7 linked regions of the Homo sapiens genome follow. The protein of the gene in region 2 interacts with the protein of the main gene of each other region in a pairwise test. Each region holds a gene or a part of one and is shown on either strand. Other genes may lie near its edges. The genes, in order: EGFL8, HSPD1, ATAD3A, PRUNE2, LASP1, IDH3G and NOTCH2NLA.

What was found.
Region 1: the proteins of HSPD1 (region 2) and EGFL8 interact in binary tests that used the Homo sapiens proteins (3 or more experiments, as listed by UniProt).
Region 3: the proteins of HSPD1 (region 2) and ATAD3A interact in binary tests that used the Homo sapiens proteins (3 or more experiments, as listed by UniProt).
Region 4: the proteins of HSPD1 (region 2) and PRUNE2 interact in binary tests that used the Homo sapiens proteins (3 or more experiments, as listed by UniProt).
Region 5: the proteins of HSPD1 (region 2) and LASP1 interact in binary tests that used the Homo sapiens proteins (3 or more experiments, as listed by UniProt).
Region 6: the proteins of HSPD1 (region 2) and IDH3G interact in binary tests that used the Homo sapiens proteins (3 or more experiments, as listed by UniProt).
Region 7: the proteins of HSPD1 (region 2) and NOTCH2NLA interact in binary tests that used the Homo sapiens proteins (3 or more experiments, as listed by UniProt).

What each region holds. Positions count from the first base shown.
Region 1 is NC_000006.12:32,163,174-32,167,394, reverse strand, and holds the start of EGFL8 (epidermal growth factor-like protein 8 precursor), read right to left. Parts: upstream 2,801-4,221; 5' UTR 2,738-2,800; exon of another isoform or gene 2,714-2,737; intron 1,258-2,713; 5' UTR 1,230-1,257; coding exon 1,129-1,229; exon of another isoform or gene 898-1,128; coding exon 775-897; intron 695-774; coding exon 585-694; intron 486-584; coding exon 390-485; intron 309-389; coding exon 138-308; intron 46-137; coding exon 1-45.
Region 2 is NC_000002.12:197,489,841-197,493,340, forward strand, and holds part of HSPD1 (60 kDa heat shock protein, mitochondrial), read right to left. Parts: coding exon 3,484-3,500; intron 457-3,483; coding exon 357-456; intron 1-356. UniProt on the Homo sapiens protein: Chaperonin implicated in mitochondrial protein import and macromolecular assembly. Together with Hsp10, facilitates the correct folding of imported proteins.
Region 3 is NC_000001.11:1,522,162-1,525,661, reverse strand, and holds part of ATAD3A (ATPase family AAA domain-containing protein 3A), read right to left. Parts: intron 2,919-3,500; coding exon 2,763-2,918; intron 2,152-2,762; coding exon 2,095-2,151; intron 1,824-2,094; coding exon 1,698-1,823; intron 1,390-1,697; coding exon 1,265-1,389; intron 423-1,264; coding exon 371-422; intron 1-370. UniProt on the Homo sapiens protein: Essential for mitochondrial network organization, mitochondrial metabolism and cell growth at organism and cellular level. May play an important role in mitochondrial protein synthesis. May also participate in mitochondrial DNA replication.
Region 4 is NC_000009.12:76,700,115-76,703,614, reverse strand, and holds part of PRUNE2 (protein prune homolog 2), read left to right. Parts: coding exon 1-278; intron 279-3,500. UniProt on the Homo sapiens protein: May play an important role in regulating differentiation, survival and aggressiveness of the tumor cells.
Region 5 is NC_000017.11:38,908,058-38,911,557, reverse strand, and holds part of LASP1 (LIM and SH3 domain protein 1), read right to left. Parts: intron 1-3,500. UniProt on the Homo sapiens protein: Plays an important role in the regulation of dynamic actin-based, cytoskeletal activities.
Region 6 is NC_000023.11:153,788,322-153,791,375, forward strand, and holds part of IDH3G (isocitrate dehydrogenase [NAD] subunit gamma, mitochondrial isoform a precursor), read right to left. Parts: intron 2,531-3,054; coding exon 2,489-2,530; intron 2,255-2,488; coding exon 2,243-2,254; intron 1,972-2,242; coding exon 1,874-1,971; intron 1,504-1,873; coding exon 1,391-1,503; intron 1-1,390. UniProt on the Homo sapiens protein: Regulatory subunit which plays a role in the allosteric regulation of the enzyme catalyzing the decarboxylation of isocitrate (ICT) into alpha-ketoglutarate.
Region 7 is NC_000001.11:146,163,022-146,166,521, forward strand, and holds part of NOTCH2NLA (notch homolog 2 N-terminal-like protein A), read right to left. Parts: intron 1,990-3,500; coding exon 1,730-1,989; intron 1-1,729.

The sequences.
Region 1 (4,221 bases), on a different chromosome or scaffold from region 2:
GAATCTCCTGCTTCAGAGCGCGCTCATCTTTTTCCGCCTCCCGAACTAGGGACAAAGGAGACCAAGAGTGTGACCACTACCCGAGCCCGGACGCCCGTCCCGAGTCCCTCGGGTGGCCCGTACTCCTGCCCACTCACCGGCCACGCTGAGTATGCTGGCACTGGTTGGGGGCTCTGGGGACCCCTCCATGCAGGTGCGCCCGTCCACGCCTAGCACTAGGTCATGGGGGCAGCCGCAGGTGAAGCTGCCTGCCGTATTAAAACAATGGTGCGAGCAGAGGGTGATGCTGGTCCTACATTCATCCACGTCTAGTTACCGAAAAAAGGAAGGGGCTGAGAGAGGGGGCGGGGGCAAGCACCTGGGTAGGTGGGGAGGACAAGCTGACTCACCCACATGACAGTGCTTCCCTCCCCAGCCGGGGGCGCACTCGCACTGGTCAGGCCTAACGCAGACGCCTCCGTTCAGGCAAGGCTTGGCGCAGATGGCTGAGGACAGAGGAAGTGGGGTTCAGACTCAAACCGACGACCCAGCTCCCCAGCTCCGTGGGGCGCGCCTCCCGCAAGGCCCGGAAGACCCAGCCTCACCTTCACAGGTGAGCGCCCCCGGGTGCCGCTTCTTCCAGCCCTGGCAGCACACTGCATGGGTCTGCTGAACCTCCCGCCTCACCTCCCGCCACATAACGCGGTACATGGTCCTGGAACACAGCGCCCGGCTCAGGACCCTGAGTACGGGTCCTAGTTGGGGTTCTTGGGGTCCCATCTCCCCATCCCTCACCTGTAAGTGCTGCAGATGCGCCTCCCAGCGCACAAGGTCAGGTAGGGCTTGTACACTGGTTGGCTGTAGGACTCGTTGTAGTGGAGCGGGACCACCAGTGTCTGCTTGGAGCAGACTCCCTGACTGCGTCCATGCCAGAGGATGAGGTGGGAGAGATTGAGTAGGCCAGGCCCTGGGGAGCCAGGAGTCCCACTTCCCTCAAGAGGCTACTGAGGCCCCCCGCTCTCCCTCCAGATGACAGCCTCTCACCCCCATTCTAAACTTACAGTTATGTTTTGCCTCCTGTGAAGCCCCACCCCCAGCAGAAGGCTCCTGAGAAGAGCTCACCCCGGGCCCTACCCCCTCTGTTGTCACCTCTCTCTGAGGGATCCACCCTTGGCCCCCTCGCCTGGTATCAGTAGCAGGAGGAAGGAGAATCCGCCTAAGAGAGTGCACAGCTCAGCCCTGGACCCCATGATTCGCTTTGACGCTGGACCCTACAGGCTGCAGGCAAGAAAAGGTTAATGGATGCCCGTCCCCTCTCCTATTAATTTCTCCAGCACTAGTCCCTCCAAGGGCACTCTGCAGGTACCCTCTAAGGGAGTCAGGACATTCACTTTTACATACTAGCCACCAGGATTGCCTACACCTGTGTGTACAACCCAACACTATCCTGTCCTTAGCATATCATGATCCTTTCAGCATCATAAAAGCTCACACCCCAGCACACTCCCTCCACCTCCCCTCTAACCTACTTACTTCTAATCCCCTCTGCACAACCTGGAGGGACACACAGTCAACCCTCCCCTTATGACCCTCCTGTCTTTTTTTGGGTTTTTTTTTGTTTTTGTTTTTGAGAAGGAGTTTCGCTCTTACTACCCAGGCTGGAATGCAATGGCATGTTCTTGCCTCACCGCACGACCTCCGCCCCCCAGGTTCAAGTGATTCTCCTGCCTCAGCCTCCCAAATAGCTGGGATTACAGGCATGCGCCACCACGCCTGGCTAATTTTGTTTTGTTTTGTTTTGTAGGGTGTGAGGGTATATAGCTAGGGTTTTTTTTTTTTGGTTTTTTTTTTGTTGTTGTTTTTTGAGACGGAGTCTCGCTGTCACCCTGGCTGGAGTGCAGTGGTGCGATCTCGGCTTGCTGCAAGCTCCGCCTCCCGGGTTCATGCCATTCTCCTGCCTCAGCCTCCCGAGTAGCTGGGACTACAGGCGCCTGCCACCACGCCCGGCTAATTTTGTTTTGTATTTTTAGTAGAGACGGGGTTTCTCCATGTTGGTCAGGCTGGTCTCGAACTCCCGACTTCAGGTGATCCGCCTGCCTTGGCCTCCCAAAGTGCTGGGATTACAGGTGTGAGCCACCATGCCTGGCCAACCCTCCTGTCTTTAACATGCCCTCTTATAACTTCATACCTTCAAAACCCTAGCTGGTTGGGCGCGGTGGCTCACACCTGTAATCCCAGCACTTTGGGAGGCTGAGGTGGGTGGATCATGAGGTCAGGAGTTCGAGACCAGCCTGGCCAAGATGGTGAAACCCCATCTCTACTAAAAAATACAAAAAATTAGCCAGGCGCAGTGGTGGACGCCTGTAATCCCAGCTACTCGGGAAGCTGAGGCAGGAGAATCCCTTGAACCCTGGAGGCAGAGGTTGCAGTGAACCAAGATCATGCCACTGCACTCTAGCCTGGGCGACAGAGCAAGACTCCGTCTCAAAAAAACAAACAAAACAAACAAACAAAAAAAACCCCTAGCTATATACCTTCACACCGTACACACAAACCAAGCACCTGGAAACTCCACACCTTTCACACACTGCTACTCCCCTCATATACCCACACCGTCACATAACGCCCTAAATGCACATCCCTTGCTCCAACAAAACACCCCGCAACTCATGCCCACCCTAAGGCTCTGAGTAAACCCCACTCTTTCCCCATTTGAAATTCTCTCCCCACTTGCCTTCCTCTCTCTCTCCATTCCCACCTGGCTTCTTTCTCCTGGGAGGCTTCAAGCAGACCAGCCTCAGCAGAAGCAGCTCAGACTGGTGGGTGGGCCTGGCAGGCTAAGAAGGAGAGGAGGGGCTGGGCCAGAGAGTCCTCCCATTCCTGCCCCCTCCCACAAGCCTCCTCCTTAGCTCCAGCAGGGTCAGCTCAGTAGGGTCAAGTCCCACTACCCTCATCCCCACCCCAGCAAAGGGCTCCCTAGAAGTATCTTTCCAACCCTCTGAGGCCCCTATTTCTGGACTCCCCAGATCAGAAGCTATGAGCTCTGTAACACCACCAGTACCCCCTTGAACCCAAAACAGACTAGGGGAGAGTTAGGGGGCAGGGAGAGAACCAGCTGCAGGGAACAAAGCAGTTCAGGTTATGGGAGAAAAAGCAAGATCAGCTGAGGAAAGCTAGAAGGGCAAGTCGTCACAAAGGGGCAGGGGGGCAGCCCAGGGCACCAAGGGGAAAACTGCCCCCCTCTCTTCATGACATTTGTTAGGGCTTAGGGGGAACAGAATTGAGTCAGCCACCACCCCCCATGCCAGAACAGACAGGGCCCTATTGTCTCAGCCAAAATTCCTTCTTTCAAGGAAGAGGAGGCTCATTGTCCAGCCCTACACCCAGCTCTGGCCCACAAAGCTCAAAAGCGGCACAACGAATGCCCACCCTGACCCTCTGCCCCCTCGTCTAGCCTGGGGGTGGCAGGCGCATTCCACCCATGAGGCTGAGGCCCAAACCACTGGAGCCCTGAGCTTAACCCCCCAGTCTTGGGGACTGGGAGAGGAAGAGAATTGTCTTCAGCAGGAAAGAACCCGCAGAGAACCAGGAACCCACAAAGAATGGGCATTGAGAGAGAGCGGAAACACCAAGGGGGTCCCCACCCTAGACCAGGCATCTGGGCACCCAGGCCTCAGGCTCCACCCCCACCCTCCTTGGGGAGCCAGGTCCCCTCCACCTGGAAATGAGCCAAGTCACACTGAGGAAATGGAACTTTATTTCCATAAATACAGGGATAACACCTATTCAAAGGTAGTTAAAAGAGGGCCTGGGGCCTCAAAGAAACTAGGCTCTCCCAGGGGGGTACTCCAACACTGATCATAGGGACTGGGGGATCCCCAAACCTGAGATGGGCCTCATAGGCCACAGATATTCCCCAACACTGACACTTCAAGAACGGAACTGTCCCCATAGGGGAGCCTCAGAACCCCACTCTCATGGGTAGTCCCTCTTAGGAGTTGGGAGGGCTGATGTCAGGGGACTTTAGAGAAAAAAGGGAACATGGGGAGGAGAGAAGCTAAAAATGTCCTGAGTGGCCTGGAAGGAGACCCCTGTGGTGGGCAGGGGGTGGGTTCTCCACCCATACAGCCAGATACGGAGGAGCAGCAGCAGCAAAAGCAGCCACAAGTTAAAAACATGGTTTCTCACTTCCCAACTTCGGCCTTGAGAGAAAGGGACAGCACGGAGCAATCCCCCAAATGA
Region 2 (3,500 bases):
CAAGACACCCTGTCTCAAAAAAAAAAAGAAACCCCACAGATTTAAGTCAATAAGAATAGTCAATATAGATCAAGTCAAGAATAGTCAAGACAGATCAAGACACTGTCTCCAAAAAAAACAAAAAAAAGGAAACCCCCTTATTCAGTCAATAAGATTTAGTCAATATAGAATAGTCAGTAAGCTCATTCTTAGGCCAGACTTGTGGCAAATTAACGGGAATTTAATCCAACCCCTACCTTCCAAAGAGCCAAAAGAAACAGATAGTTGTAGTATCTAATTGTGAAATGTTAAACTATCTATAAATTCCAGACAAGTATAAACATTCAGCAAACCATTATCACATTTATTTTACTTACTGCACCACCAGTAGCAATAGCCATATCTTTAAGCTGGTTCTTTCTATTGTCACCAAACCCTGGAGCCTTGACTGCCACAACCTGAAGACCAACCTTTAGCCTGTTAAGAATAGTTGATAGTAAGATTTAAATGAAATAAAAATGCCTATCTGTTTAATTCCCCTCAAGCTGTTACTAGATTACTTAGGACTCCCTAAGTAATCTGGTTTGGTTTTTGTGTTTTTTTGTTTTTTTTTTGCTTCCTAGCAATTTTTGATCAAATTAAGACAGGAAGTATCTGAGACAGTTTAGGCTATTTTCTATTAATTATACTTGTCCATATCCGTTTACCTTCTTAATAAACTGTTGGCCTGGCCGGGCGTGGTGACTCAGGCCTGTAATCCCGGCACTTTGCAAGGCCCAGGCAGGTGGATCACGAGGTCAGGAGTTCGAGACCAGCCTGGCCAAGATGGTGAAACCCTGTCTCTACTGAAAATAACAAAAATCAGCCAAATGTGGTAGCAGGCACCTGTAATCCCCACTACTCAGGAGGCCGAGCAGCAAAAATCACATCACAGTAAGTTATAGGATACAGTGATAACTATTATGAATGGTAGAAAAACAGTAATTACTAAATATTACATTTGAGGGTCATTTAATAAACATCTCCATATATTAATGCTGAGTTTTGAATGAGCAATGTTCTGAATTCACTTCTTTTATAAATGTTATACAAAAAGCTGACAGTATTGTTAAGCTCACCTGAAATTTTTACCAGGTAAATGAATACTTGGAATGTGTAATCAAATGTCCATTTGAGAGCAGATTGTGAAACAGAAGCAACGTTCAAACTTCAAGACAGCTGGTCTATTTTATTAAGGACCCAAATAAAAATCAGAGGAATAAGCTATATGCTATGTAAACTGGATATCCCACTTTTCAACTAGCAGTAAAATGGCTTAATGAAAACTCTGTAGGCTTGTTTTTTTCTGGCCTCAAGTCTTTTTTTTGTGTGTTTTTTTTTTTTTTTGAGACAGAGTCTTGCTCTGTCGCCCAGGCTGGAGTGCAGTGGCGAGATCTCGGCTCACTGCAACCTCCGCCTCCTGGGTTTACGCCATTCTCCTGCCTCAGCCCGCCACCACGCCCAGCTAATTTTTTGTATTTTTAGTAGAGACGGGGTTTCACCGTATTAGCCAGGATGGTCTCCATCTCCTGACCTCATGATCCACCCGCCTCGGCTTCCCAAACTGCTGGGATTACAGGCATGAGTCACCACGCCCAGCCAAGTCTTTTCTTAATCCCTCCAAAAAAGCAAATCCAAGCTAAGAAAAACATTCCAGGGTAAGGCAGCTCATTAGAGCTTTTGGGTCAGATGAGCACGTGTAATGTCTAAAACGTACCTGTTAATGTATGCATTTCTACTATAACAAAATGGAAAGAAAAGTCTTGCTTCTGACATACTTCAATTCTGAGATAAGGAAGAACAAACATTTTAATAATGCCCTTAGATTGTCTGCAGCATGAACATTACCTGTCTTAAAGTTTAAACTAATAGTAAACTATAGCTTAAAATGTAGATTTAAATAAGTGACTAGACCTCACCTTATTTTAGATTGGGTGCTATTTTCTCTACTTCAGACTATTTAGTAAACATTTAACAACAGACTAAATACTTGATCACAGCCAAGGGTAGTGGCTCATGCCTGTAATCCCAGCACTTTGGGAGGCTGAGGTGGGAGAATCACTTAAGATTCACCAACAGTTTAAGACTAGCCTAGGCAACATATTGAGGCAACATATTGAGACCTCGTCTCTACAAAAAAATTAAAAGATCAGCCAAGTGTGCTTGTGCAAGTGTGTAGTCCCAGCTACTTGGGAGGCTGAGGCAGGAGGATTGCTTGACCCCAAGAGTTCAAGGCTGCAGTGAGCTATGATCGTGCCGCCGCAGGCCAGCCTGGGTGACAGAGTCTGTCTCTCAAAATAAATAAAAATATTCGATGGTGAAATACACTTACATCTGAGTTATTTATTTAGAGACAGAGTCTCGCTTTGTTGCCCAGGCTGGGGTGCAGCAGCACAATCTCGGATCACTGCAACTTCCGCCTCCCAGATTCAAGTGATTCTCCTGCCTCAGCCTCTGAGTAGCTGGGATTACAGGCACACGCCACCATGCTCTGCTAATTTTTATATTTTTAGTAGAGACGGGGTTTCACTATGTTGGCCAGGCTGGTCTGGAACTCCTGATCTCAGGTGATCCACCCGCCTGTGCCTCCCCAAGTGCTGGGATTATAGCTGTGAGCCACCATGCCTGGCTCTGAGTTATTTGGAAGTTAGTTGTTTACTTCCCTGTTCTATGCAAAATAATATTCTGAAAATTTACATATTTTTAACCAGAAAAACCTTAAAAAAACAAAACAAAACAAAACAAAAAACAAGATTGACACTTGAACCCCGGAGGCTTGAGCTGAGATTGAGCCACTGCACTACTGCACTCCAGCCTGGGTGACAGAGACTCTGTCTCCAAAAATAAAAATAAAAAATAAAAAAATTACAAGGCCGGGCGCAGTGGCTCACACCTGTAATCCCAGCACTTTGGGAGGCTGAGGCGGGCGGATCACGAGGTCAGGAGTTTGAGACCAGCCTGGCCAATATGGTGAAACCCTGTCTCTACTAAAAATACAAAAATTAGTCAGGTGTGGTGGCACGCACCTGTAGTCCCAGCTGCTTGGGAGGCTGAGGCAGAACTGTTTGAACCTAGGAGATGGAGATTGCAGTGAGCCAAGATTATGCCACTGCACTCCAGCCTGGGCCAGGGAGTGAGACTCTGTCTCAAAAAAAAAAAATACAAGATTCAGTCATGTGCCTTCAAAACAACTGTAAACACTTGCAAAATACAGAAAGGTACCCATGTGCTAAATTAGTCTATTCTATGAGAAAGCTGATCAAAATAGTAAAGACTTTGGGGTTCCTTCAAAAACACAACCATAAGGATACATTAGAGCACACCTGATTTACACAATTACAATTCTAGATACAAACCCAACTGGATCAAATGTGGAGGTACACATGATGGAAACTGCAAACAGCAATACAAATAATTCTGTCTTTCACCGAGAAATATAAATCAACAAATACCACTGCTTATTACCTATTCAAGACGAGTGT
Region 3 (3,500 bases), on a different chromosome or scaffold from region 2:
CGGGAGGATCACGAGGTCAGGAGATCGAGACCATCCTGGCTAACACGGTGAAACCCCGTCTCTGCTAAAAACACAAAAAATTAGCCAGGTGTGGTGGCGGGAGCCTGTAGTCCCAGCTACTTGGGAGGCTGAGGCGGGAGAATGGCGTGAACCTGGGAGGTGGAGCTTGCAGTGAGCCGAGATGGGGCCATTGCACTCCAGCCTGGGTGATAGAGCGAGATTTCTTCTCAAAAAAAAAAAAAAAAAAAGCTGTTTTTCACACAAAGCTTACAGAGAAAAAGAAACTGAACAGAGGGCTGCAGCCTGGCCCAGGCAGACGGCTGTGCCCACCCCACCACCCCATTGTGGCCAGAGGCTTAGTGACACTCACGGTGGCTCGCTTCCGAAGGAAGGCGTCCGCTTCATCCACAAAGAGCAGGAGGCTGTGAACGAGAGGGAGGCCAAGCAGGGCGAGAGTGACACCAGGAGCAGCCCACAGCAGCGTCCGGCCGCGGCAGGAGCAGGCCAAGCAGGCAGATCCCCACGGGGTCAGGCTCTGCCCCATCAGCAGCCCTAAGTCCTGGACTCGACAGAAGCCGATCAGCCTGGCCTCTGGGCAGCTGACCACGGCCCAGCCTCAGAAGGCCGTGGGAAACCAACCACACACGGGGGCGACGAACTCCGCCCCACAGGCTTCACCCCCACCCGGCCCAGTGCAGCACTGGTGGCCGCTTAGAGTCCACGACAGGGACAGGTCTTCTAAAGTGAAAGGTCAAAGGCCAGAGGGGAGGGTGCCAACCATGAGCATCGTGGTTCCAACGAGGACAGCCGAGGCCACAAGGGTGCCCGGGCTGTGCCCTGCGCGGGGTCACTGTGGGACCTATTGAAGGGAGTGTGCCATGCTGTCTTCAGCTAACTTTCAAATGGTTCTAGAAAAGGCAACCAGTGCCCACGCCCACCTGCAGGCGTGTTGGGGGGAGGGCGGCTGTGGAGGAGCCTCCCCTGCAGCTGTGAAGACTCCTCTCCCCCTGCACCCACCCACCTCCCTTCTGCCCTGAGCCAAGTATCCCACTGGCAGCCTCCACACGCTGGGGGCCTCGTGTCCACCAGGGTCCACACTCAGGGGACTTTCCCTCCGAGGGACCCTCCACTGGGCCTCCTGCGTGGCCACAAGGACAGAGCTGCAGAAAGACAGGGTCCCCAAGAGACACCTGGACCCCCTTCCCAGAAGGCAGCCTGCTGGGCCGCAGCCAAGGGCCTGGTGCATGCTGTGGGGACGTCTCACCCGCGCCGGCTGGTATTGGCCCAGTCAAAGAGCTTGTGCATGGCGGTCACGCCTTCCCGCCCCATGGGGGCCACGTCCCCGCCTGTCATGATGGCGTAGTCCATGCCTGAGTGCAGGGCGAGTTTCTGGACAGGAAGAGTGAGGGGAGACAGAGCAGATGTTCCCTCCGCCTCTGCAAAGCCTGCACACTCCACCCGGAGTGTGGAGGCTCTGCCCAGCGTCCCTGCCTGGAAGCCACAGCCTGCCAGACAGGAGACGTCCCCCGCCTGGAAGATGGGAGGCGCTGCTGCCCACACCAGCACCCTGAGCCTACACGAGGGTGGGCAAAGGCCTAAGGGGGGTCCATTCCCCAGGCAGCTGAGCCCCCCAGACACCTGCAGGCAGGTGAGACCCCAGCGGCCCCTGGCCCACCTGTTCAGCCAGGCGCTCTCACCTTGGCAAACAGCGTCTTCCCGGTGCCTGGTGGCCCGTACATCAGGATGTTCCTGTACAGGCTGCGGTTCTTCTTGGTGTTCCTTGTTGCTATGGCGATGTCGCGCACCCGTGCTTCCAGGCTGGGCTGCCGGGGAAGACGGGGGTTTGGAGGAGACACTGTGCACCCATGGAAGCCTCAGGGGAAGGGGCTGCGGGAATGCCTGGGTGCAGACTCGGCTCCTCGGGAAGCCTCCCACCTCAGGGGCAGCCTATCTATCCCCAGCACGGTCCAAGCAGTCGCATCTCAGGACCCAAAAGCTCCTGGGTGCCACCACGAGCGCCAGCAAGGGCCACAGCCCGGCCCAGCTCCAGGGTCCCCTCCCTGCGCCTCCCCGGTCCCAGGCACACCGACTTACACTGAGCACAACACCCTCCAGCGCGTCCTGGGGTCGACTGAGGAGCCGCCGGCTGACCTGCCGGAGGGGAAGGGGAAGCGCCATCGGGTCACCTGCCACAGCCACGGAACAGCCACCAACGCGCACACACACGCTCGGTAACACGCAGAAACGGAGCTGCCCCAAAGCACAGCCAGGACCGGCCCGGAGCTGGAACCCTGCCCCGCCCGGAGACCAGGCGGCTATTGCTGGGATTAGGGGCATTTTCCGGTTCCTTATTGGCTTTTATTTTCTTAACCACCTACCCAGTGACCTGTGGAGAGCAGGCACCTCGGGGGCGGCGAGCGGCGCGGCTCCCCAGGGAGGCCACCAGACGCCGTGGCCTGTAGCAGCTTCCCTGATAGACGGCCGCACACCCAAGTCCCGGGTCTTGCAAGGACCCCGATGTGCTCCCAGGCCCCATCAAGAGCCCTGAGCAGGGGACACCGAGGCAGACAGGGGAAGGGTCTCACTGATGCAGACCCCTAAGGTACAGCGCCAGACAGGAAAACCCACCCGTGAAGCAGTGTGCGGGTGCCCGTTATCCGGGGAAAGGGAAGGGACGGGAGGGTGTGCGTGGGCTGTGCTCGTGGGGCAGAAGGGACTCAGCCAGGAACTGCACTCAGGGAGGGCCAGGCCTGCGCTGCTACCTGGATGGGGTGCCGCAGCGCCTCAAGCACCGTGATGCGGGACGTCTCCCTCACTAGGGACGGCTTCCCCAGCCGAGCCTCGATGAAGCGGCCGGCGACAAGCGTGGCATTCTTGGCTGAGTAGACCCCAACAGCCAGCAGCGTCAGCCCAGCCACCTGCAGCAGAGACACCGCACTGGCGCACCGGCCCCCACCGTCCCTCCCTCTTAGAGCAGGAGACGCACGGGGCTGCCCCCACCCTCTCTCCGCCCGAGGGAGAAGCACAGGGCCGTGCACTGGCCCCACAGGAACGCGAATTCCCGGCCCCGAATCCCACAGCCACGCGGTTACAGGAGGCAGGTGGGGCAGTCACAGCGCCCTCACTCAGGGCCATTTTCTCTGCAACTGGCAGCATAAATCCTAGAAAGCCTCGGTCGCTGAGCGGGGCCCTGGACAGACCCAGCCGGATGTCACAGGGCCACACCCTCTGGTACATTCTTGGCCACTAAAAATGGTACTTTATTCCTGGAAAACAAGACTAACCCAAAATCTCTAACTCGTTTTAAAAATCAATTAGGCTGGCTGGGCACAGTAGCTCAGGTCTGTAATCCCAGCACTTTGGGAGGCTGAGGCAGGTGGATCACCTGAGGTCAAGAGTTCAAGACCAGCCTAACCCACATGGAGAAACCCCGTCTCTACTAAAAATACAAAAAATTAGCTGGCCATGGTGGCACATGCCTGTAATCCCATCTACTTGGG
Region 4 (3,500 bases), on a different chromosome or scaffold from region 2:
GGCTTGGGTGAGGGTCCCCAGCTGCAGATTCTGGAAGAAATGAAGCCTCTAGAATCTTTGGCACTAGAGGAAGCCTCTGGTCCAGTCAGCCAATCACAGAAGAGTAAGAGCCGAGGCAGGGCTGGCCCGGATGCAGTTACGTTGCAGGCTGTCACCCATGACAATGAATGGGAAATGCTTTCACCACAGCCTGTTCAGAAAAACATGATCCCTGACACGGAAATGGAGGAGGAGACAGAGTTCCTTGAGCTCGGAACCAGGATATCAAGACCAAATGGGTAAGCAAAAAGCTAGATTTATTTTTTTTCCTGAAAAGCAATTTATTTAGAAACCTGGGAAATGGTTAGAGGTTATGGAATATGAGGAATACCTGGATGATAGCAGCTTTGCTTATATTGAATGCAAGGCACACCATCAGTAAAAGCAGCTACTAGATAACTATAACCATAATGATAATTTATGTACATTTTCAGCCAAAAAGCCCCTTCAATTTTCATTCAGTCTTATACCTACCCCCCAACTGCCACCCCACCTACTTGAATACCTACATGACTCTTCAACAGGCAGTTGGGAATACAAGGAAGTGACACTAACATTTAATCAGCACCTACTATGTGCAAGGCAGTTTGCATACATTATCTCATTTAATCCTAACATGCCAGTGGGGGGAATGGAAGGAGTAGGGTTGAGTAGGGGGATTCAAGGCTCAGAAATTTTCTATAATTTGCCTAGAATTAAGTAACCAGAGTGAACACCTGGGATTCGAAGCTTGCCACCTCCAAAGCCTGTACTTTCTCAGTTGACACACCGCTTAGCATACAGAGGCATTTTCATATTTTCAAATACAAGGCATTTTCTGGTTTTATGTAAGCACCTAACTTATAGTTAGATAAGAGACAGGCTCCACAGCAGTCTCCAAATCTCAGTGTAACACATTCATTCCCTAATTGGCAGAGAAATTGGCAAACTGTCATTAAATCAGTGATTCATTCATTCATTCATTCACCATGTGGTTTTTGAGAGCTTGCTCTGTGCCGTGGTTCTGGGTAGCCAATGGGCATATATCAGGGAATAGGATGTCATCACTGCCCTCAAGCTTCCAGTCTCTGCTGAAACTGTTTAGCATTCTTCATTTCTCTTCATTTGTGTTTATGAAGCCCACCTGCTTCCAGGGACAAAAGAACAAATTGTGAAAAGTAACTTAAGTAACGGGGAAAGTCATGTTTTCTCCTTAAAATGTAATAGAGAAAAGATATCGGCCAGGTGCGGTGGTTCATACCTGTAATCCCAACACCTTGGGAGCCCAAGGTGAGTGGATCACTTGAGGTCAGGAGTTTGAAACCACCCTGGCTAACATGGTGAAACCCCGTCTCTACTAAAAATTCAAAACTTAGCTGGGGTGGTGGCAGCACCTGTAATCCCAGCTACTTGGGAGGCTGAGACAGGAGAATTGCTTGAACCTGGGAGGTGGAGGTTGCAGTGAGCCGAGATCGTGTGACTGCACTCCAGCCTGAGTGACAGAGCCAGACTCCGTCTCAAAAAAAAAAAAAAGCGAGAAAAGATATATTTTTGCTACTCAGCTTGGGAGTGTAAAGGACTATACACATCACATACCCACAGTGAGTCAAGGAATCTGGATTCCAGCCTGCCTCTACCATGACTGATTATACATTTTAGGATTAATCCCAGGCTTAGGTTTTCTCATGCGTAAAATTAGTGAGTTGGGCTGAAAGATCTCAAGGCTTCCTGCAGTATTAAATTCTGGGAACTTAATTTGTGTGGAAACAGAATGTGTCCAGGGGAGCTTTGGCATTCACAAATTACATTTCTTGATGAAAGGAACAAGGACAATGGAAAGAATAGCTGGGGTATGTTGAGGATTAGCCAAGTGCAGAAGGGGTTAAAAGCTCTACCATATTCCAGGGCAGCTTCATAAATCCAGACATTGTCAGCTGGCCTAATCCTTCTTTCTTCCTGTCAAGCTATTTTCTTCCAGAGAGACCCCAGATCCGTTATCAGAAAGAGAGTAGCAGATGGATCCCAGCAGCCCTGCTGGCATTGTTATAGATTGAGCTCAGAACTCAGGCAGCCATGAGTTGGCTGAGCTATTGTTTGGCTTCTTGTGTGCATTTTGCACATGCCCCGAGATCCAACAGATGACAGTCAGTGTTCAATTGTGCCACCAGCACCTTTTCTTTCAACAAGATTTCTTTGCTCATCCCTTTCTGCTCAGCTTTTGTAGTACTGAAACTTTTCTCACAATGGGGATGGGGCAGATTTTCCCTCCGGCATGTGTATTATCTTTTGCATAAATAATTTACTGTGAATGTGTAAGTCTCCCTCTGTGCTAGATTTTGGGAGAATAAAGAGTTGTCTAAAACTGTGGTTCTCTAAGTGGGGTCCTAAGAACAGCAGCATCAGTATCACCTGAGTACTTGTTAGAAATGCAAATTATCGGCTCCGACTCAGACCTCCGGAATCAGGAACTCTGGGGGTGAGGCCCAGCCAGCTGAGCTTCAGCAACTCCTGATGCCCTCCAAAGCTTGAGAACCACTGGTTTAAAACATACTGTCAGCCGTCTAGGAGTTTACAGTTTAACTAAAGAGTTAGACATAAGTAAAAAGGTAGATAGCAGTGTAATATTTAAGTCAAGCTAGTCAATGCCCAATGTCAGTTTAAGTATAAAATGGGTACTAACTACAGGCTATTTGCTGTTGGACCAGGTGTTAAGCACTCTGCGCTATTTCACTTTACATAGGGCAACCCTGCGAGACAAGAATTATACAAGTGAGGAAATAAGAGGAGAGATATCTGTTTCGGGCGCCTTTATGGAGCAGGCAGCAGGAATGGCTTATTCTCTGTCAGACACAGGAGACAGAGTGCCCAGGGCCCATGATACTTTAAGGAGCCCATGAGAATATTTTCTTTTATAGTCAGAAGAAAAAATTATTATACTTTCAAGTGGATTTGTCTTTATACCAACAAAGTTATAAAATAAATTTTTAAAAAATGTTTTAATGACAGAAGGGGCTTATGAAGGCACTCCTCAAGGGGCTTATGAAAGTCACTAAAGGAAAGGTCATAATTTGGAAAGGCAAAGAAGAGGGTAAGAAGCTAGCTGAGTGAACTGGGATGAATACTATGAAGGAAGCCATGGGGACAGGAAGGTAATCACAGAAGCAAAACAATGAGATAGCTGTGGTTTCCCAAACAAAAACCTGGAAACATCTTCTGACACATAATCTGATCATAGAACAGAAGATCCAAAATCAAGACCATTCTGCAAAAAAGAAAATTAAGAAAGCCTCTTCTTAAATAGAAATAGGTTCATAGTATGTGCAATATGACTCACCAGCTGCAAATCAGCTTCTTCCCTCCCCTCCTTCAGCCTCAGCCTCTCTTAGCTGCCAAACTGTTTTGAGAGCTGCAAGCCACATTTTGAAAATCTGAGAAAGCATGAGAAAAATGCCTTTTCTCCTCATATGCCACCTACTGACTCT
Region 5 (3,500 bases), on a different chromosome or scaffold from region 2:
CCCTGGCTGGGGTGGTGGGGGAAGACAAGGGAAGGAGATACCAGCCAGCAGCCCTAGTTGATACACTTCATGCATATCAGCTCGCCGAATCCTCCCCACAAGTCTCTGAGGTAGTCAATGTCATATCCCGATATCCAGAGAGGCTAAGGGACCTGCCCAAGGTCATCTGGACACATGGTGGTAGGGAGGGAAGGGATTAAGGTCAACCTGGAGGCAGCCCACCCTCGCCACTCAAGGGCAGTCCAGGCTTCTCTCATCCTTCAAGGTCCATCTCGGCACCTCATCCTCGGGACGCTGGCCCTGGCTCCAGGCTGAACCCAGGGCTTCCATAGCACCTGGGACTGGGCTGTGCTGTTGGCGGGTGGTGTCCCCCACCCCCACTGGATGGAAGCTCCTGGAAGGTAGTGAAGGAGCCAGTTATTCTGATGCAGGGGTCTCCCACAGCACTGCACACCCCAGGCCTCAGGACTGGCTGAAGAGAACAGACCAGGATCCTGGAGACCCTTGAGCTTTGCTTCTTAACATGTGGTCTCCTGGCCGGGCGCGGTGACTCACGCCTGTAATCCCAGCACTTTGGGAGGCTGAGGCTGGTGGATCACCTGAGGTCAGGAGTTTGAGACCAGCCTGGCCAACATGGTGAAATGCCGTCTCTACTGAAAATACAAAAATTAGCTGGGCATGATGGCAGGCACCTGTGATCCCAGCTACTCGGAAGGCTGAGGCACGAGAATTGCTTGAACCTTGGAGGCGGAGGTCGCAGTGAGCCAAGATCACGCCATTGCACTGCATCCTGGGCAACAGACTGAGACTCTGTTTAAAAAAAAGTGGACTCCAGACTACCTGTGTCTGACTCAACTGGGCTCCTTGTTAGAATGCGGGTTCTGGGGCCTTCCAGAAAATCTACAAAATCAGGGCTGGGGTTCTGGAATATGCATTTTGGAAAAAAGCTCTCCAGGTAAGTCTGAAGCAGGCTTCAAGTCTGAGAACGGGTGGTCTAGAGCAGAAGCTGGGAATCTATGGTCCATGGACCAAATCCAGCCCACAGCCGGCTGCTAAGAACGGGTTCCACATTCTTTAATGCTTGGCAGGGGGCGGTGGAGGGGGGGAAGAAGAACCAAAAGAGGAATAATATTTCATGACACATGAAATTTCTCTGAAATTCAAATTTCAGCCTCCAGAAATAAAGTTTTATTGGAACACAGCCACACCCACTCAATTACCTCTTATCTGTGGCTGCTTTCATGGCAGAACTGCAGAACTGAGCTGCTGCCACAGAGGCCATATGGCCACAAAGCCTGAGATACCTCCTACCTGGCCCTTTACAGAAAAAACTTAGTGACCCTTGTTTGCCAAAATATTCTGACGGCATACTCCTATTGGTTAAATGTATTTTAGCACAATCTTCCTGAATTATGTGTATTTTATAAGTTACATGGAAGTTATCACTTGACAAATATAGAATGTATATTGTAAAACTTGCACCAAAGAATGAATTGTGAAAGTATGAGATGGCCAGGTGCGGTGGCTCACACCTTTAATCCCAGCACTTTGGGAGGTCGAGGTTGGCAGATTGCTTGAAGTCAGGAGTTCAAGACTAGCCTGGCCAACACAGTGAAACCCTGTCTCTACTGAAAATACAAAACTTAATCAGGCATGGTGGTGGGCACCTGTAATCCCAGCTACTTGGGAAGCCGAGTCATGAGAATCACTTGAACCCAGGAGACGGAGATTGCAGTGAGCTGAGATCGAGCCACTGTACTCCAGCCTGGGAGACAGAGTGAGTCCATCTCAAAACAAATGAATGAATGAATGAATGAATGAATGAATGAGATGAAAAAGAACCAGAACCAGGAGTTAGAGTTTTCTTCCTGTAGGAACATGCTGCCTGTCCCACACCTTGATGACCCCTAGTGGGCTCTATCCTCTTCACTTTTCTTTCTTTTTTTTTTTTGAGATGGAGTCTCGCTCTGTCGCCCAGGCTGGAGTGCAGTGACACAGTCTCGGCTTACTGCACCCTCTGCCTCCCGGGTTCAAGTGATGCTCCTGCCTCAGCCTCCTGAGTAGCTGGGATTATAGGCAACTGCCACCACGCCCGGCTAATTTTTGTATTTTTAGTAGAGACAGGCTTTTACCATGTTGGCCAGGCTGGTCTTGAACTTCTTGACCTTGTGATCTGCCCACCTCGGCCTCCCAAAGTGCTGGGATTACAGCCGTGAGCCACCGTGCCCAGCCTCCTCTTCACTTTCCAGAGAGGAAACTGGTGGGGACGGGTACAACCATAGAAAGGTGTGAGGGTTCAGGGTTTGAGTGCTCCATGAGGATGGGGGAGGAAGCGGGACATAGAGTGAAGAGAGTGACAGCTCTCCCCCACCCTCAGGGGAAACTCAGAAAGCAGGACACCAGGACAAGGAGAGAAACTGGTCCTTCCCAGACGGGCTCAGGCCTGCAGGAATTTCCTCCAGGCCCTGGCAGGCACCTAGCTGGAAGCCAACTTCACTTCCTGTTCCCTAGAATGCTGGCCTGCCTTTTCCTGATCCGGGAAAATGGGGTGGGAGTAGTGGGGTGGGAAGAGGAGGAGAGGCAAAACCTGCTGTTTCCTGGAACGCCCCTGCCCCATCAGGGCTGTCCCAGCCTGGGCAGTCCCCTTTGGGCATCCCCTCCGCACAACGTCTCTGCTGCCTCCTCTCCCCCTTGGCACTGGCTGTGCACAAAAGGCAAGAGCAAGCACGTGGCCAGGCAGGGCTTACACGTTAACAGCTGGAAACACCTGCATGGTTGCTGCTCCTGCTGGCTGAACAGCCAATAGTTCCTGCAGCCCGGGCTGGGGGCACAGGGAGGGCAGTGGTAAGGGCCTGGACAGAGTCTGGGGGGAGTCCAGTCTGGACGCAGAGGGCAGTTTACTTAGGGGTTTGGGTCAGGATCAGTCCCTCCTTTCCCGGCCCCCTCCCTTCAGGCCAGAGCAAGGACCGGCACCCACGTGGCAGCACAGGCTAAGCCTGTTCCTGAGGTGAGGCAGCCAACCCTGGCCAGGCTGAAAATCCAACCGACCCCAGCATCCGCTGGGAGGGGCACTCCAGGTGATGTTCTCACAGACCCAGCGCAGAAGGTGAGTCTCCCGAGCCCCACTCTCTTAGTGATCCCTGTCCACTGGTGTTGGTGGCGGGGAGGGCACAAGGGAAGGGGACACCCCTCCTGAGGCCTCCAGGCTCACGAGGCACCTGCCCTTCCAACTTTTGTTCTGAGGTGGGAAAGGTCAGCTTCCCTTGTTTCCTTTCTGCTAAGGAAAAGAGCCTGCCCCTGAGAACCTGTGACCAGGGAGGGAAGTGCAGACACGGAATGGACAGGGGCCTGCCCTGGGCCCCGAAGGTGCCAGCAGGGGGCCTGCAGGGACAGGTGTCCTTGATGTTGGGGGCCCAGATGAATGTGTGACAGCTTCCCTGGACATGACGCTATCTGCATTAGCGATGGGGTGACAGGGAGCCTTTTCCTCTGGGAGGAGA
Region 6 (3,054 bases), on a different chromosome or scaffold from region 2:
GTGCAGCAGGTGCTCCATGAATAACCCCTGAACGACGGAATGAACAAGTCAATAAATGAATAAAGGCTGGCAACCAGCCAGGCAGCCATGCCATTCTCCATCCAGGCTCTGGAGCAACAGAAAGTGACCACTCTTTACTAACAGGTTGGCCGGCCAGGCTGGAGCTAGCAAGGTGGCCTTGGCGGTGTTACTGCCAAGCCCCCGCATCAAGGCACCACACTCAGAGGCAGGCGGGGGCTGCCTGGAGAAGGCCACGGATTGGCCGGACCCTACCCTACGACCCAGGACACCTGGAGGAAGGGAAGCAGAGGCCAGTGGCCGCTGGAGACAGCAGTCAGAGGGCGCCAAGCAGAGGCCGCCTGCTGGTGAGCGGTACCCCACCCAGACTGCTCCACTCACAGCGCGGGGGTCCCCTGTGGCTGGCACAAAGGCCCCTCTACTTGACTGCCAGGGCCTGGGGCTCCCCCTGGGTTCATCTTTGCTCACACGCTCCTCACACAGTGCAAGTAATGGGCTGAGTGTGCAAAATGAGCAATGGAAGTAGTTTAAGGACCTCAAGTGAAGCCCCAAGAATCCCTGCCTGGGCTGTGCCATCCACCTCCAGGCTGGCTGCAGCCGAGGAGCCAGGCAGAGGGTCGGAACTGCATCTCTGTGATACCTGGTTTGTGAAGAAAGATGCTGAGGGTCAAAGCTGACCCCAGCAGAGAGGACTGTCTCAGGAGGGAAGGAGGGGTGGGAGGGAACCCATCAGGGAGCCCGTCACTGGACAGGCTCACACACAGCTGCTCTCACTCGAATCCCAGCATCGCAGCGCAAACAGGCCCGAGGAGGCGTCCACCCAGTCTCCAAGCACGAGGGTCCTCTCTAGCCAGACAAGCCCTGAAATCAGAGCCGTGGGGCCCCACAAGAGTCAGCTCAGAGGGAGGTAAAAGAAATCACAGGGGCTGGGCACGACGGCTCACGCCTGTAATCCCAACACTTTGAGAGGCTGAGGCGGGCAGATCACGAGGTCAGGAGTTCAAGACCAGCCTGGCCAACATGGTGAAACCCACTCTCTACTGAAAATACAAAAATCAGCTGGGCGTGGTGGCGGGCGCCTGTAATCTCAGCTACTCGGGAGGCTGAGGCAGGAGAATCGCTTGAAACTGGAAGGCAGAGGTTGCACTGAGCCGAGATCACACCGCTGCACTCTAGCCTGGGCGACAGAGCGAGACCCCATCTCAGAAAGAACGCAAGAAAGAAAGCAAGAAAGCAAAAAAGCAAGCAAGCAAGAAAGCAGGAAAGCAAGCAAGAAAGCAAGCAAGCGAGCAAGTAAGCAAGAAACGAAGGAAGAAAGCAAGAAAGAAATCACACCTAGGGCCCCATCCTGGCCCCTGGCCCTGGAGCTCACCCTTCAGGGCCACGCGGTTCCGGCGGATGGCCATGATGGCATTGCGAATGTCCTCTTCATCAGCATTGGAACTCACGTGCACCTCTTCAAAGTCCACTGGTACACATGCGTGCCTGAGGCACGGCAGGGTCAGGGAGGCTGGCCCAGACCCCCCCGCACCTCCTCCAGGAAGCCTGCCCAGGCTACCTCTCTCCTGTTGCTACCTGCCCTGACCTGGCTCTGACTGAGAAGGGACTGGGCCCACCTTCACTGACTGATGGGGACACGCTTGAACTCCACAATGCACACTGTGGCAGGACTGGTGCCACCTTCCCCGAGCCCAGGCCAGTCTGGCGGGATCACAGGCCATGGGACGCAAGGCCTGGGCTTACAGGTCGTCTTGCCATGGCCTCACCGAGTGCTTCTGGGCGCAATGCCCCTCTTGGCACAAAGTCCTCAGGGCCCCCTGGCTGAGGACAAGGCGGGGACCCAGGAGCTCCATACCTGAAGACGGACTTGACATGCAGCATGAGCTCTGGCCCGATGCCATCCCCTGGGATCATGGTCACCGTGTGCCGCCCGCCATACTTAGCGGACGGAGGCTGTGGGAGGCAGAGGGTGAAGGTGGGCCTTCGGGGATCCCACATGCCCCCAGCTCGGCCCCCATGGGCTCAAGCCAATTCCCTTCTTCCCACTGGCGCTGACCCCACAGGCTGCCCCGTCACAAGGTGCCAACTTGGGGCAGCCCCGTCCCAGACAGGGCTGCTCATCCAGGGCTCCTGGGTCAGCAGCAGCCCACCCCCACCTGGAATTTAGTTAACCCCAAAGCAACTAAGAGCCCCCCAAACCTAACAGGCAGAGAAGAATACTCACAATTGTTTGTTCCTAGAAAGGATGAGAAAGGAAGAAGACACAATCAGCCAAGGTTCCAAGAGCAAGGCCGTGACCAGGAAAGTGGGACCTTTTCCCAGGGGGATGCTGGCTAGTACAACTCCCAGAAGAGGGGTGGGTAGCCCCTGGAGACCACGTCTCAGAGGACAGGACACAGGCCGTGCACACACGCGCACAATTGCGGCCACATGGAGAAAGACACATGCGTGGGCACGGGCAGGTACTTACTGAAAAGATGTTCCTCGAGGGGACCTCGTGGGCGCCTAGAACCTGGCAGAGACCAAATGCCAGCGGTTGGTTTGATGTCTAACCCAGAAAGCCAAGTTGGAAGGAAAAACGGACCGTCCCCACTGTGCCCAGGCAGGTCCCCTGTCTGTGCAGCATGGCCCACTGCCAGGGGCACAATAGATAATTAGCTCCAAAGCCTCAGTCCCCAGGGCCGGCCCGCTGGAGCACCTGGAAAGTAGAAGGCGCTCCAGCCTCCTGCCTCCTTCCGCTCTTCAGAAAATTTCTTAAAAGGCGTGTCCCTGCCCTCCCTCCTCTTTTTTGCTTCTGATTATTTTTTTGGCCAGTTATTCCCGCTCAGCGATGTTTGTAACATGCAAAAACTGGCAAACTAACCCTGGTACAGCAGGGAAATCATTACAACAAACCACAGATCCATGACAACAGTCACGTTATCACTTCGCCGATCACTTTTTCTTATTACAAAAGCAGCATGTGGTCGCTACAGAAAAAGCAGAATAGGGAGATAAGAAGGTAGCACCCAGCCTCCGGCCTCCCTGAGACAAGCA
Region 7 (3,500 bases), on a different chromosome or scaffold from region 2:
ATGAAGAATGTTCCTCCTTTTCTCATCTAATTTAATAAACACTTTTGAATAAAGCTCAGACCCACCTAGAAAAACCCACAATCTATTCAGGTGAGATATGTGTAAAAAAAATTACAATAAAATGTGATACATAAAACTAATAAAACTTAGAGACCATTTGCCTAAAGGAATCATGAAAGGGTCACTGAGACACAGTTTTAAATAACATTGGACAATCACCAGTTGTAGAAAAGGGCATTCCAGGCAAAAGGGTGTGTAACTGTATGGAAGCAATAATAAGTACAACATTTTCAGGAAATAAGGAGAATTTGGTGTGACTAGGCCTAGATGCTTGTGGGGAGGCCAGGCTATAAAAAGATGTAAAGTCTAGGCTGTAGAGAGCTATGGAAGTCATGTAAAAGAGTTTGCAGTTTATTCTGCGGATGATGAAAAAATATTAGACATTGTAAGCAGGTGAGATTGTTAGAATATTTGCATTTATAATCAAAGATGTAGTAATATCATGGGTGAATGAGATGGGGAGAGAATAAAGGCAAGAAAACGTATTCAGAAACTACTTCAGAAGCCCAGGTGAGAGATAACATGGCCTTCAACTACAGGGTAGCAGAGGAAATGGGAGGAATAGACAGGTGAAAGGCAACTCAGAGGTTGGCTTGGGTGACTGAGTTGAAATGAGGTCAGAACAAGGGACAGGGAGTTTCTAGCGTGGGTATTTGGGATGTACATGGTTGCTACGTATTTCTGTCAACAAGGTGAGCTGAAAGTACCTGTAGAATATCTCCAAGGAGAACATACAAAGGATAACTAGAAACATGAGCCTGAATGTCAGGGTTGGGTGGAGCTAAGGGAATGATGGTGAGATTCATCAGCAAGCTAATGAAGACAGTGGCAGTGGAGGCGAATACAGACAGTGAAATTCCCTAGGGAGAGCTGTGATGTGGCTCAAAAGAGGGCGCAAAACAGTGCTCCAGGGAGCACAAACATTTAATGGATAAGAACAAGGTAATGAAGAAGCAAAAGGAACAGGGTTCAGAAAACCAGAAAAGCCAGTGCCCTGAATGTCTAGGGAGGGAGATTTCTAAAAGCAAATAGTCAATAACATCAGCAACTTTTCCTCTGGTGACAGTGTACTTATTTCTTTTAGTGAAGTAAACTCTGATTCCCCATCCTGGTGTACATATTTTTTTTTTTGAGACAGGGTCTCACTCTGTCACCCAGGCTAGAGTGCAGTGGTGCGATCATAGCTCACTGCAGCCTCAAACTCCTGGGCTCAAGCAATTCTTCCACTTCAGCCTCCCAAGTAGTTAGGACTACAGGTGCACACCACCACACATGACTAATTTTGTTTTATTTTTATTCTTGTTTTTTTGTAGAGATGGGGTCTTGCTATGTTTCCCAGGCTGGTCTCAAACCTCTAGCCTCAAGTGATCCTCCTGCCTTGGCCTGCCAAAATGCTGGGATTGCAAGCGTGCGCCACCGCACCTGGCCCTGACATATATACTTTAAGCAGTCAAAGTATTTGGTCCTTTTTCTTTCTCTTTCTCTGCCCCCTGAAACTCTTAAAAGGAAGTTAGGGATAGTTGTCTGGAACATCCCAGTTCCTTATCATAATGTTAAATGTGCACCAGAGCTGGGGGACATTTAAGAGCCAGACACCATGATCTAAAAGATGCTAAATAAAGGTATCTGCTGAAGGTAGGAAAGCACTGGCTTTGGTCTCATTAGTTACCTGTAAACCCGACTTGACAGGTGCACTCATAGGTATCCCGGCTGAGCATATGGCATGTGCCGCCATTCAGGCAAGGTCGAGACACAAAGCATGGATGAGATGTCGAGTACTGGCAGTCCTCTCCTGTAAACCCTGAGGCACATCGGCACGTGGCTTTCCCCAGCATGGCCTGGGCCACACAAGTCCCACCATTCTGGCAGCGGTTCTTCTCACAGGGGTCTCGATGTTGACAATATTCCCCCAAGAAGCCTTCTGGACATCTGTATGGAAAAGAGAAGAGTCCATGAAAACACCTGACTTCTTGTAAGTCCAAAAAATTACAGTAAAACAATACAGTCCAATCAAGAAAGCACGAGATTGTGAATCAACAGACCTACAAGGACCACCTATAAAACTGCTTCCCTTTAGAAGAAAGAGTCCTTAGAGAACTTAACCACATACTCCCATGTCCTTTTGAGTCCTGGCAGGTGACAGAGTATCAGGTGTATGGTCTAGCAGGGTCTGCCATGGCCAGTCAACATGACCCTTATTCAAACGCAAAATGCACCCCAGCTTTTTTTCATGTGTGTACAGGTTGGGATGGTGTAACAGCACCTTTTTTAGAGCACTGTTCGTACTTGTCTGCTTAAATTCATTAACTTTCTCATTTTGACTAAGCCATTTGATAGGATTAAGATGTCCACAATATAATGCATGAACTTGACCCTATTATCCCCTCCAATTTAAAATATGTAAGATATCATGTGCTTTTCCTCAATTAAGCATTGAGAAATAGTAAGTGCTTCTTTCTCTTATTTCCACTGAAACATCAATTGGATGATACCTAGTTTTCTGGGTTATGTTCAGGTGGCTGACATTACAACGGAAAAAGGGAAAGGAGGTACAGGAATGGGGAAGAGTTCAAAGGGATATTTAAAAATCTGTTAATATTTAAGTAGGCATTTTTAACCAAATAAAAAGACACAAAATATAATTAAAATAACATAAAATATCTAAGATACCATATAAACACCAAAGTCAAGGAAGGAATCAATTGAAGAATAACATTCTATGATATTTTCCACATTGAGGCACTGAGGAACCTTTTTACATGCCACCCCTTGATTCATAAGATGTACAACCATTTCAAACTGTGTGTATTATTTATGACAATTTTCTCTGAACAATATCAAAAAGGCATGGTAAGTCTCCATTTTCATAATGAAGTTGTTTAAATGGAATCTCTGAGAAGCATTTAAATTAAGAAACACAAACACTTTGATTCTAACTATAAATGCTGCTATATATTTGGCTGGTGCCCCAAATATGTGATTCAACTTATTCCTCGTTTTAGTTTTCAGGGACTAGAAAACTGAATCTAGTAGGCTGTTCCACCATTACCTCAAAGATTACACATTTAAACCAAACTCTAAATCCCCCTCTCAAAAACCAGCTTTTCTGTGCCCAAGCCTTGTTGTCCTGATTTTCCTAATCATTGTGACCTGAAACATTGGGGTCATGAGTGCTTTTGTCTTTGACAGTCATATCCAAGACCTTTCATTAACCATTGGTTGGCAAGGCTAGCTAGCAGGGGTCACAGTTACTGAGAAAAGAGGGAAGGCCAGATACTAGGGAACTAAGACAGAAAATGCCCAGAAGAATTGTGTAGTAGCTAAAATGGCTAAAGGAGAAAACAGGGTGGTGAATAGCTATAGTGGTAGTGAGGTAACTGGCCACAGCCTCTTCACCCCTCCCAGAGCTGCATAAGATAAGCATGGCAGAGCAAGGAGCG